Regions from separate parts of the Homo sapiens genome. Here region 2 is linked to region 1. Evidence: fine-mapped expression QTL. A gene starts in region 1. The other region holds a variant in brackets. All regions are shown on one strand. Distances are between the middles of the regions.

Region 1 (5,373 bases):
TGCTTGGTTTTCTGTTCCTGCATCAGTTTGTTGAGGATGATGGCTTCCTGCTCCATCCATGTCCCTGTAAAGGACATGATCTCATTCTTTTTTGTGGCTGCGTGGTGTTCCATGGTGTATATGTGCCGCATTTTCTTTGTCCAGTCTACCACTGATGGCCATTTGGGTTGGTTCCATGTTTTTGCTATTGTGAACGGTGCTGCAGTGAATATATGCGTGCAAGTGTCTTTATAACAGAATGATTTATATTCCTTTGGGTATGTACCCAGTAGTGGGATTGCTGGGTCGAATGGTAGGAGAACGTCATATAATTTCTACATGCCAAGAAATAGTATTCTTCTTTTCATTTGTTTTCCAGTCATTTAGAAATGTAAATATTATTCTGGGCTCTCAGGTTGTAGAAAAACAGGTAGCTAACCGTTTTGTGCTCTTGGGCCAGAGATTGCTGACTCCTGGTTTATAACGAGATGCTATGAGAATTAATGACTTAATCATTGTAGAATACATTTCTCTTTATGGAATAAAAAATGTTATGGATGCATAAGTAGCAGTAGGTATATAGATACGTATTAAATTAGCAAAAGATGCCCTTATAATGGTCAGATTCACAAATCATGCCACATCTACAAAGAGAAGACTGATACGACTTTTGCTAATGGAACTGGTTCTATATGTGCATTTCATTCTTCACAATAAACTCAAGAAACTGAAAAAATAAAATAAAATAAATAAATAAGCCTGTAACTCAAATTAAAGTATAAGAAACACTGCTCTAATTGGAAAAGAAGAAATCACGGAAATGCCAATGTCGCCTGGGTGTTTGCCAACAGCTACTACCTCCCAGTTAGGACTCTTCACACACAAACGCCCCGAAGGACTCTGGCAATACAAGTGTGTAGCAAGTGCTTTTTAACATATAACCATCCTTTTATGAGACAGCTGTCAGGATATGAAGTTTTATCCCTTGTTGGGGGGTCGGGGGAGGAGGAAAGGATTCTTTCCAGAACAGGTGTGCGTATGCGTGGGAGGGAGGAGCTGAATGGGGAGGAGGAAGAGGCACAGTATGGTTAACCGGAATGTTCAAGGAGTGCTCTGGCGACTGTGGACAGAGCAATCTGTCCAGGGCACTCAAGTGTTTAAGGAAATGACAAGTTCAGAGAGGCAAGGTGATTTGGGACCAGACTGAGGACTTCTGCTCCAAGACCAGGGGAAGGAGTTGAACCTTATTCTACCGCTGAAGCTTCTGTTTTCCTTATTTTCAGATCAAGTGATGTGATAGAGGAAACGTTTTAAAAGATTTATCCGGGTGCAAAGTCCAGATGGGCTGGAGGGTGGAGAGACGGATAGGAACAACTTAGGTTACTATAAAAGTCCCTGATGAGATAAGGACCCAAACTAAGATGACATAAACATTCCTTTCAAAGAGGGTGTACCCCTTAAAAATTCATAAGCCACCTTTTATTGAAAGTGAACTCATCACTTTCAAAATCTTGTGACATCTCCATCATATATTTAACCAAGAGTTATAATCTCACAGTTTGGTCACCCCCATGACCAAAACAAATAGACCGATGTTCTTGGTCAATGGATTATTTGGCTCCTCGAGTTGAAACCCTTCATTTTCTGGGCTGGTGACAGTCAGCCGGTTCTCCACACACAAAGGGCGTTAAGTGGAACCCCCGCCCCGGCTCCGCAGCGTCCCCGCGGATCTGCCCGCCTCGGGACGGCCACTCGTCTGCGAGGCCCCGACAAAGAGCGCGGAACCTGAGCCTCTGGCGAAGATCCTATTTCGAGCCCGACGTCCTGCTACAGTCTGCAATAAGCGCTCTCCGTCCAGCCGGCGACTCCGGGGGGGGGAGACTGGGGCGCCTGGCACGGAGCCAGCCCGCGTGGGCCGAGCGCGGAGGCGCCGGCTGGAGGCCGTGGAGTCCCTGAAGGCCTCCCCTCGCTGTCCTCCGCGCCCAGGCTCCCGGCTTGGTCCGGCAGGGACCTCGCGAAGCGGCCTCACACCCGGCCCTCCCCTCGCCTCAGCCGCCTGAGGGCCCGCGCGCGGCCCCCGCGCGCCCGCCCAGGCCCAAGCCCGGCCCCCACGGGCGCCTCCGCCGCGGCCTCGCCCGGCCCCGCCGCCGGCCCCTCGCTCTGCCCGGCCCCGCTCACCCAGAAGATGAGGTTGAGAAAGACCAGCACGGTCTTGGAGGAGGTGATGCCGCACTGGCCCATGGCGCCGGTGGCCCGCGAAGGCCCGGCCCGGAGAGCGGGGCTGCGCTCACCGAGAGAGCGGCAATGGCGGCGGCGCCTCCTCGCTAGGAACTGCACGGCCTGCGCGGCGCTCCCCGCAGCCCCTGCGCCGTCGCGCAGCCCCGACCCCAGCAAGTGCCTCGCTCCTCCGCGCAGCCGCCGCAGTCCCCTCAGGGCTCCCGCGCCGCTCCCTGGCAACCGAGTCCCGCCCCACGCGGCCGGTAGCTTCAGCCAATCGCCTCTGCGGAGGCTGCAGTGAGGCCACGCCTCTTAAAGGAGCCAAGGCCTCAGCGCCTTTTCTTGGCCTCTGGCCGCCCTTGGACGCAGATGGCTCCCTAGGGAGGTTCTGGTGGACCAAACCCACTCTCCTCCTATGACTATGCCACCCTTATAGATGATTCAGAGCCCTCTGAGTGCTATCTTTCTACCTAGCCCATTCTCCCCTAGGAAGGTTGGAGACACTAATCTCTGCCTGACCAGATTCTCCTGACCAGGTTAAAATCTTGGCAGCACTGTTGGTGAGAAGTGCAAAGAAAAACAACAAATACTTATGGAGAAACTTATTGTACCAGGCGCTGGGCTAGACCTCAGAAGAGTCAGAGAGGAGAAAAGGCTGGTGATGGCGTTAGCAAGGCAGAGACATGTTTGTGTGGGTGAGTGGTTGGGAACAAGTTCTATTCCAGGGTAGTAAGTTTTGGACCAAGATTCGCAACGATTACAGAAACATCTCTTTGCATTGCAACATTTCACATTCTTCCCCCAATCTTGAATCCGTCATAGCAATTAATTATTGGGTGCTCACCCGGTGCCAGGCTCCATTAGTTCATTTAACCCCCACCACAACCCTGGATGGAAGGCACTATGGTTATCAGCCTCATTTTACTGATCGGGTAATTGAGGCTTAGAAAGGTTAAGAAGTTCGCCCAGAGCCACACATAGTAAGTGGTCTAGTGCAAAAAACACATCATCAGTCACACAATAAACTGCCTCTGTTTGCTGTCTTTCCTGCCATTATAATCCTGCACTCCCTCCTTGACCGCGCCCGTAAGGATTTCCATTTACTGGTCTTTATCAGCTCGCTCTCATGCAATCTCCCCCACTCATCACCTTTCCCAGGCACTCTCAGAAGTACCTGTTAATCTCAGCATCCTGTGCATTTACACCAAGCAGCAGCAACAGCCATTTATTCACTCATCAAACTTGCCGCGTGTCCCCTCTGGGCCTCACTGTTGTCGGTGGTGGATATTCCACTGTGAGCAAGACGTATCCTTCCTTCCATGGCTTACATTCGTTCGGGCAGAGGAGGCAGACCATAAACAAACGGGCAAGTGGGTATATGACATGAGGTAGTGTTAGGAAACAATTCAGAGGAAAGGAATAGAGTGATGAGAGGAGTCCTCTCTGAGGAGAGAACATTGGAGGGGACCCAAGGGAGGTGAGGGGAACAGCCCAAAGATGAGAGCAGCAAGGACAAAGGCCCAGAGACCGGAACATGATCACTGTGCTGTAGGAAGGGGAACACAGAGAGCCTAGTGTGCTGGAGGTGAGCGAGGCCGGATCACCAACAGCCTACTACGCCAGGCAGAAGCCTTTGAGCAGACCAGTAACACCATCTAAGTGTTTCAAGTGCCATTCTTGCCATACCATGGAGGTCCTAGTTAAAGAAAGAAAAATGATGGGCTCTCAAACATGATTCCCTTTGAACATCTATCTTCTTGACGCCTCTGCCCTCTGTAAATTTCTCTGTCTGCTTTGCTCTGAGTGCTTTTCCTCCTTTTCCAAAACATCCCCTTTGCATTTCTTCATCCTCATCGTGTCCCTTCTCATTTCCCTGTGAAGGTCTCATCAAGTCCTTCTTGTGCCTTCTCCTTGAGTGGGTCTCAGACCCCCCCCCCCCCCACATTACAATCATCTGGGCCACACAGACAAACTCCATCAGATTCTCTGGGGGCGAGCCTCAGGGAATCAGGTGTTTTTCAAAAACACACCAGGTGATTCGAATATGCTGTTGGGGCTGCAAACCACAGTTCTGAGTTTACAAGCATGGTCATGCCTCTCCTATCCTAAAAAGAAAAGCCTCTCACTTAAACACCATGTTTTACTTTTTCTTTCTTCTCTTAGCCAAAGTTCCTAAAAGAGTCATCTCATCCAGTGCTTCTCAGACTTTGCCTTGCGCACAGATCACCTGAGGATGCAGACTCCAGGTGGTGGGGGTGCAGCTGGGCCCCTCTTTGTAGCAAGGGGCTGGACTTCTGCCCTTGACTCTTTTGCTTCCCACTCACTTTTTTTTGTTGTTGAGATGTAGTCTCGCTCTGTCGCCCAGGCTGGAGTGCAGTGGTGCAATCTCCGCTCACTGCAACCTCCGCCTCCCAGGTTCAAGCGATTCTCCTGCTTCAGCCTCCTGAGTAGCTGGAATTACAGGTGTCCACCACCACACCTGGCTAATTTTTGTATTTTTAGTAGAGACGGGGTTTCACCATGTTGGTCAGGCTGGTCTTGAACTCCTGACCTCATGATCCACCTGCCTTGGCCTCTCAAAGTGTTGGGATTACAGGCGTGAGCCATCGTGCCTGGCCTCACTTTTTGACTCACTGCCATGTGGCATCACCCCCACAGTGCCACCGATATCGCTCTTGTCAATGTTACCAGTGACTTATCTGCTACCCCTTCTCTGAGGTGGCATATATCATGGTTAAGAGCACAGGCTCGGGGACCAGGTAGCCTAGCTGGGTCCTCTCTCTGTGCCTCAGTATCCCCATCATAGGGAGAAAATGATGATGACATTACTTCCCTAATTATCATGTGATTGCTGTGAGAATTAAGTGCATTCATATACATATAGCTGTCAGAAAAGTACCTGGCACACAGGTGCTTTGTAATCACCGGAGTTTACTGTTTCCGAGACCTAACCATATTTGGCTCCGTTGACTTCTTCGTACTCAGAACTCTGCCTTTCCTTAGCTTCCATAACACCATCATCTCTTAGTTCACTGTCTGCCTTTGCAGCAGCACCTGTTCCTTGCACCCATTGGATGTTGGTGTCTCCCAGAGTTCTGGCTTAGGTCTTTTGATTTTCTCAACCAACCTGGGCCAGCTCACCCAGAGCACTGGATTCCGTTGCTATCCACGTGCAGG
Region 2 (5,305 bases), 28 kb before region 1:
TCACGCCTGTAGTCCCAGCACTTTGGGAGGCGGAGGCGGGCGGATCACGAGGTCAGGAGTTCGAGACTAGCCTGACCAACAGGGTAAAACCCCGTCTCTACTAAAAATACAAAAATTAGCCAGGCGTGGTGGTGCGCGCCTGTAATCCCAGCTATGTGGGAGGCTGAGGCAGAACTGCTTGAACCCAGGAGGCGGAGGTTGCAGTAAGCTAAGATCGTGCCACTGAACTCCAGCCTGGATGACAGGGCAAGACTCTGTCTCGGGGAAAAAAAAAAAAAGATCAGCAAGTCTCTTTTCTACCCTATAATTTCTACATCTGTCTTACTTTCTTCATTGGATAAACTCAGGGGAGCAGGATTTATGTATGACTCAACTTCCCCACAAATAGCAATGCAGCAGCACCATTCAGTAGATACGAGGTTTCTGCCACGTCACTGTGTTACACCCTCAGGAGACCTCACAGATCTCACAGGCACTGCAATAGAAAGCCACGTGCAACACACAAGTTATTTTCAAGAACTGCAAGGATGCACCCAAAAAGCAGGTGCTGTTACACACCAACAACCACCAACTCGGAAATAAGTTAGGAAAACCATTGCATTCACAATAGCTACAGACATTAAGCTTCACAGAAAAGTTTCCTAAGTAAACTCTGTTAAGATCCGAAAGAAAAAAACCCAATAACCAATCAAACCGGGCAGAGGACAGAAGCAAAATTCAGAAGATACAAATGGCTGAAACACCTTTAAAAGCATCCTGGCCCTAGCTAACAGTCAAATAAACACATATTTTCATCTCTCAGAATGGAAGAAAAGATGAAGGCTGATCACACCAAAAGTGTCAACAAGGGTGTAAAGAAATGCACATTTCATTCACTGCTGGTGGGAATAGAAATTGATATAAGCTTTCTGGAGAGCAACCAGATGTATCCATGAAAATGTTTAAACGTGACTTTTTTTTTTTTTTTTTTTGAGACAGAGTCTTGCTCTGTCACCCAGGCTGGAGTGCAGTGGCATAATCTCGGCTCACTGCAACCTCTGCCTCCCGGTTCAAGCGATTCTCCTGCCTCAGCCTCCCAAGTAGCTGGGATTACAGGTGCATGCCACCAGGCCCTGCTAATTTTTTGTATTTTTAATAGAGATGGGTTTCACCATGTTGGCCAGGCTGGTTTTGAACTCCTGATCTCAAGTGACCCACCTGTCTCGACCTCCCAAAGTGCTATGATTACAGGCATGAGCCACTGCACCCAGCCAAACATGACTTTTCCATCCAGAGTAAATCCAACTAACAAGAATCCACCCTTGGAGTTCATGTAAAAATACATGACACAGGGTGATGAAAGTGCTTTGAAACTAGATACAGGCAGTGGTTCTATAGCATGGTGAATGTACTCAAGGCAACTTCTTTACTTTAAAATCGTTAATTTTATGCCATGTGAATTGCATCTCAATAAAAATTGTTTTCATTTTAAAAATTGTAAATGACTGCAGTGTGTGTATAGAGATGATCACTGTGGCGAGTAGTGGAGGCACTGGAGGCAGCCTGCAGGCCTGCCCTTTATACACCTTGGTTAATCATGGTACTAATGTACCCACACAGCTAACACAATGGAATGACAAATCCTACAGTTAGACATGGAAGGAGCATCAGACTATGTTGTGAAGACAGAAAGAGGATCTTGTAGGATAAAATTCCTATTAGCAAAAAGCAAAAACCAAAACCCAATACCAAGTCTGTTTCTGTGTATGTAGTCTGCAAAGACACATGCCATTGCTGAACTGCTGAACTTGCTTCCCTGTGGGTACTTCTTTACAGATGTCTGTATTGTTCACATTTTTTAAAGCACCAATTACTTTTGTTTAAAAAAATACACTTAAAAAAGGCAGTAAGACAAGCTCTGTCAATCATCTATAGGACAAGAAGCAAAGACACCCCAGCTGCAATAAGCACACCTAGTGCCAGGGACCAGGGCTCCTGGGACAAACACTGATCCATGGCTGGTGCCCAGGGGCCTGGAACATCTTGTTAGATCAGAAATTAGGGGAGTGCTTCCAAAAATGCTGGGATATAGGAGGCACTCGAAGGGGCTCTCGCTGGCCAAGTCGGGAACTATCTGAGGAACTCTTCCCCCATCCCCAAAGGTCAATGATGAAGTCGACTTTTGAAAAAATGGGAATCCATAGTGGATATATGAAAATAAATGAAGGAGAAGGGAGGGATGACTGGCAAATGAGGAAGGAGTGCTGGGCTGCAGAAACGTCGCTTGGCAGTCATCATAAAGATTGAATCAGGCCAGAATCAGCAACATTTGCTGAACCTGGTCGGGGAATGGGGAAGAGTCTCATGAGGAACAGGGTATGTACATGGAGACAGTGTGTCTCCAGAGATTTCTTATTAGTTGAAAAGAAAAAAACAGTAACCATGCTATGGAGAAAGTGGACACACCTCGACTAGGTGTGCCAGGTACTCATTTATTGCCTCTTAACTCCAAATTTCCCTGACCTTGCCCTTCCTTGTCACACTGAAGAGGGGGCTCTGAAAACTCCTTTACCCTTTGCCAGCCTGACCCACAGTGGGCTCTGAAGGGGCTAACAAGGCTAGAGGAGGAAGATGGCCTTTTTCTTCTGTCTCCTTTCGTCCTGCACGGGTCCCAGCAGCATTCCCCACCGTGACAGCTCTCTGCTCCTGTGGCTTGGCGGGGGGGCACCTCCAGTAAGTTGATTCTCCAGCATGGGACAGGCAGCATATCCCAGGCAACCACAGCCACCCCTCGGAGGTCTCTCCACCTTGGGGAACCTCCTCTGAGTTTCCACGTTCCTTCTCTGTTTTCTCTTCCCTTAGCCCTAGGGGTGATGGCTGTTCTCTGCTAAGCTGCTTTAGAGCTCTTTTTTATCCCTTTTAGTAGTTAACTACCTTCTACACAGTTAACAATTACTTATATTAAAACCTTCCTGTTCACATTTCCTCCTCCTTGGACTAGATGATCAAAACGAACATCCCCACTGTGGGGCAGATGGGCATTGTGTGCCTCGAGATGCGATGCCCTGAGAGGCCGCGTGACGCAGGTAGTGGTTCAGCCACCTGGAATGCAAAACCAAATCTAATCACGAGGAAAT[C/T]GCAGACAAACACAGATAAGCAGCACCACCTAAAACGAACTGTATCCTTACAAACTGTTCCTATCATCACAGACAAAGCTATGGAAATGATCCAGATTAAAGAAGACCAAGGAGACATGACAACTCAACTGATTACCTGATCCAGACCAGATCCAGCACCGCAGAGGGAAAGGTGCTATAGAGGACACGATGCGGCCAATGGGAATATGAGTGGTGAGGTATTCTATCAGTGTTAGATGGACGGAATTTGACAACTGTACTGCAGTCGTCAGAGAGTATCTTCTTCTTGGTAAGTACCCACTGAGGTATTAGGGGTAAAAGGCCATGACAGGTGTGGAGGCAGCAGGAGGGAGGGAGAGGGAGAGACAGGGGGTTGGCGCAAGGGAGAGAGAACGCACACACATTTGAGAACACACATGACAGATAGAATGGGACGAAATGTTAATAGGTGTATCTGGGCAAAGGATATTTGAGCCTCATTTGTACAGTTTTTATTCTTGCAACTTTTCTGTAGCTTTGAAATCATTTCCAAGTAAAATTAACTTTTTTAAAAGAGGCCATACAATATAGCAGTGGTCCTCAACCAGGGCTGTGTCCTGGACACACCCTAGAGCACCTTAGATGCTCTGGGACCCAGGCATCTGTAGTTCTCAAAGTGCCCCGGTGCTTCCAATGTGCAGCCACGGGCAGGAAACACCAGCCTAGTGGGTGAGCTCACTCACTAAATTTCAGACATGACGAGCAGTGCTTTTGCTCTCTGAAGAACAAGCACTGGGTAATGCCAACACCTAGCCTCAGCTACACGGGGGAAGGGCAGAAACAAGATGTTGAATTTGCATGGCCCTGGCCAACACAGACAACATCCCCTTCTAGTGGTTCCCAGGCAAGAGAAAAAGGCATTTCCAGGACAACTGTGCCAGGAATTAAACACAAGTTAAAACTGGCAGGAGCTGGAATGGTTTCCCAGACCTCAGAGCTACCTCCCCACCTCCATCTTTTTGGTCTCACTGGTAATATGGCCAGTCTGGGTCCAGCTGGCAGAGCACACGGGAGGAGGCTGCTCTCTCACCAGGCAAACTGAGGACTGAGTACAGGAAGGGTGTGGAGAATTATCCTCTTGGGCAAGTTGAAGAACAAGGCTACTGCTTGGCATATTTCCCAAAGCCATTTCCCACTCTAGAGGCCCTGTTCTGTCCTGTAGAAAGAGTGGAGAACAACCAACATCACAGTCCAAATATTGCTCACCTCAGGGCCAGCCTGTGACAGGGTACCCACAGGATGGTTCATATTGAAAACTGGGGGGACCATGCTCGGGGGAGGTGGTGGTAGTGAAAGGTCACAAACATTCTTGCCCACTGTGCAACAGGCAGGGGCAAGAGGTGGGATGGGTCAGTAGTCACATGATAAATCCCCCGGGGCCTCTGAAATCACATTCTGGTAACTTCCACTTTGTGAAAAGGAGTTAGTTTTTACTCCTCTCCTTTCCCGTGTCTTCTCCATTTTCAGGTGGGACAGATCTGCATGATATTTGGGCATCTCAAAACTGACGAGCCCAAAACTGACCATGAGTCACACCCCCAGATGTGTTCTCTAACTACTCCCTAGCTCTGTGACTTTGTTTCCCCAGTTGACTGAGCCAGAAACCTGGGACTCATCCTAGATGAGTCTTCTCTTCTCCCTTCTCTGTCCCACGTCCAATCAATGATCGAATTCCACCACTGTCCTGCCTCCAAACAGCCAGAATCCACCGCTCACCACCGCCCCCAACAGTGCCCTGCTGCCCACTGCTAAGCTCTCTCAACTGCTATGCCAGCCTAACTGAAGCCCAGTCACACCAATTCATCCTGGCTTCAGCACGGCCGGCTTGCATCACCACCTTCTTCTCAGTTCACCTTCCAAATCAAACCTCCAAAGAGCTGCTTCCACCTACAAGTCAGCTCTCACCTCCACAGGATGTTCCGTAAGACACTAGAGGGCCTGGGCTTTCCTGCTTCTCCAACTTCTTTCCCCAGCCTTGTATTTTAAGCTCCCTGCACACACAATTTTGTTTCACACTCTTGTGTACCATCTTTCAACAAAGCCTATCCAGCCTCCAAGCTTGGGCATCTCCTCCAGGAAGTCACCCCTGACCTCTCCGGAACTCCCCTTTGGACTCCCATTCTATTACTACAACCACTGCAGTGTGAAAA

What was found. PIP is the estimated chance that this variant, and not a neighbour inherited with it, causes the effect. A credible set is the group of variants that fine-mapping cannot tell apart.
Region 2: its variant is the best candidate, but not a certain one, in a credible set for the expression of TSPAN3 in lung (TOPMed, PIP 0.61).

What each region holds. Positions count from the first base shown.
Region 1 is chr15:77,068,735-77,074,107 of GRCh38, forward strand. TSPAN3 (tetraspanin 3) reads right to left here and starts at 2,375. Exons shown (of 7, transcript NM_005724.6): 1 at 2,158-2,375. The coding sequence starts at 2,220. RefSeq lists a silencer at 1,842-2,541 and an enhancer at 2,682-2,741.
Region 2 is chr15:77,040,433-77,045,737 of GRCh38, forward strand. It overlaps TSPAN3 (tetraspanin 3), which reads right to left. Exons shown (of 7, transcript NM_005724.6): 7 at 972-5,305. Among named protein-coding and RNA genes, the nearest start is that of TSPAN3, 28 kb to the right of the region's middle. RefSeq lists an enhancer at 2,706-3,905. The variant C/T (reference allele first, on the strand shown) is at 3,117.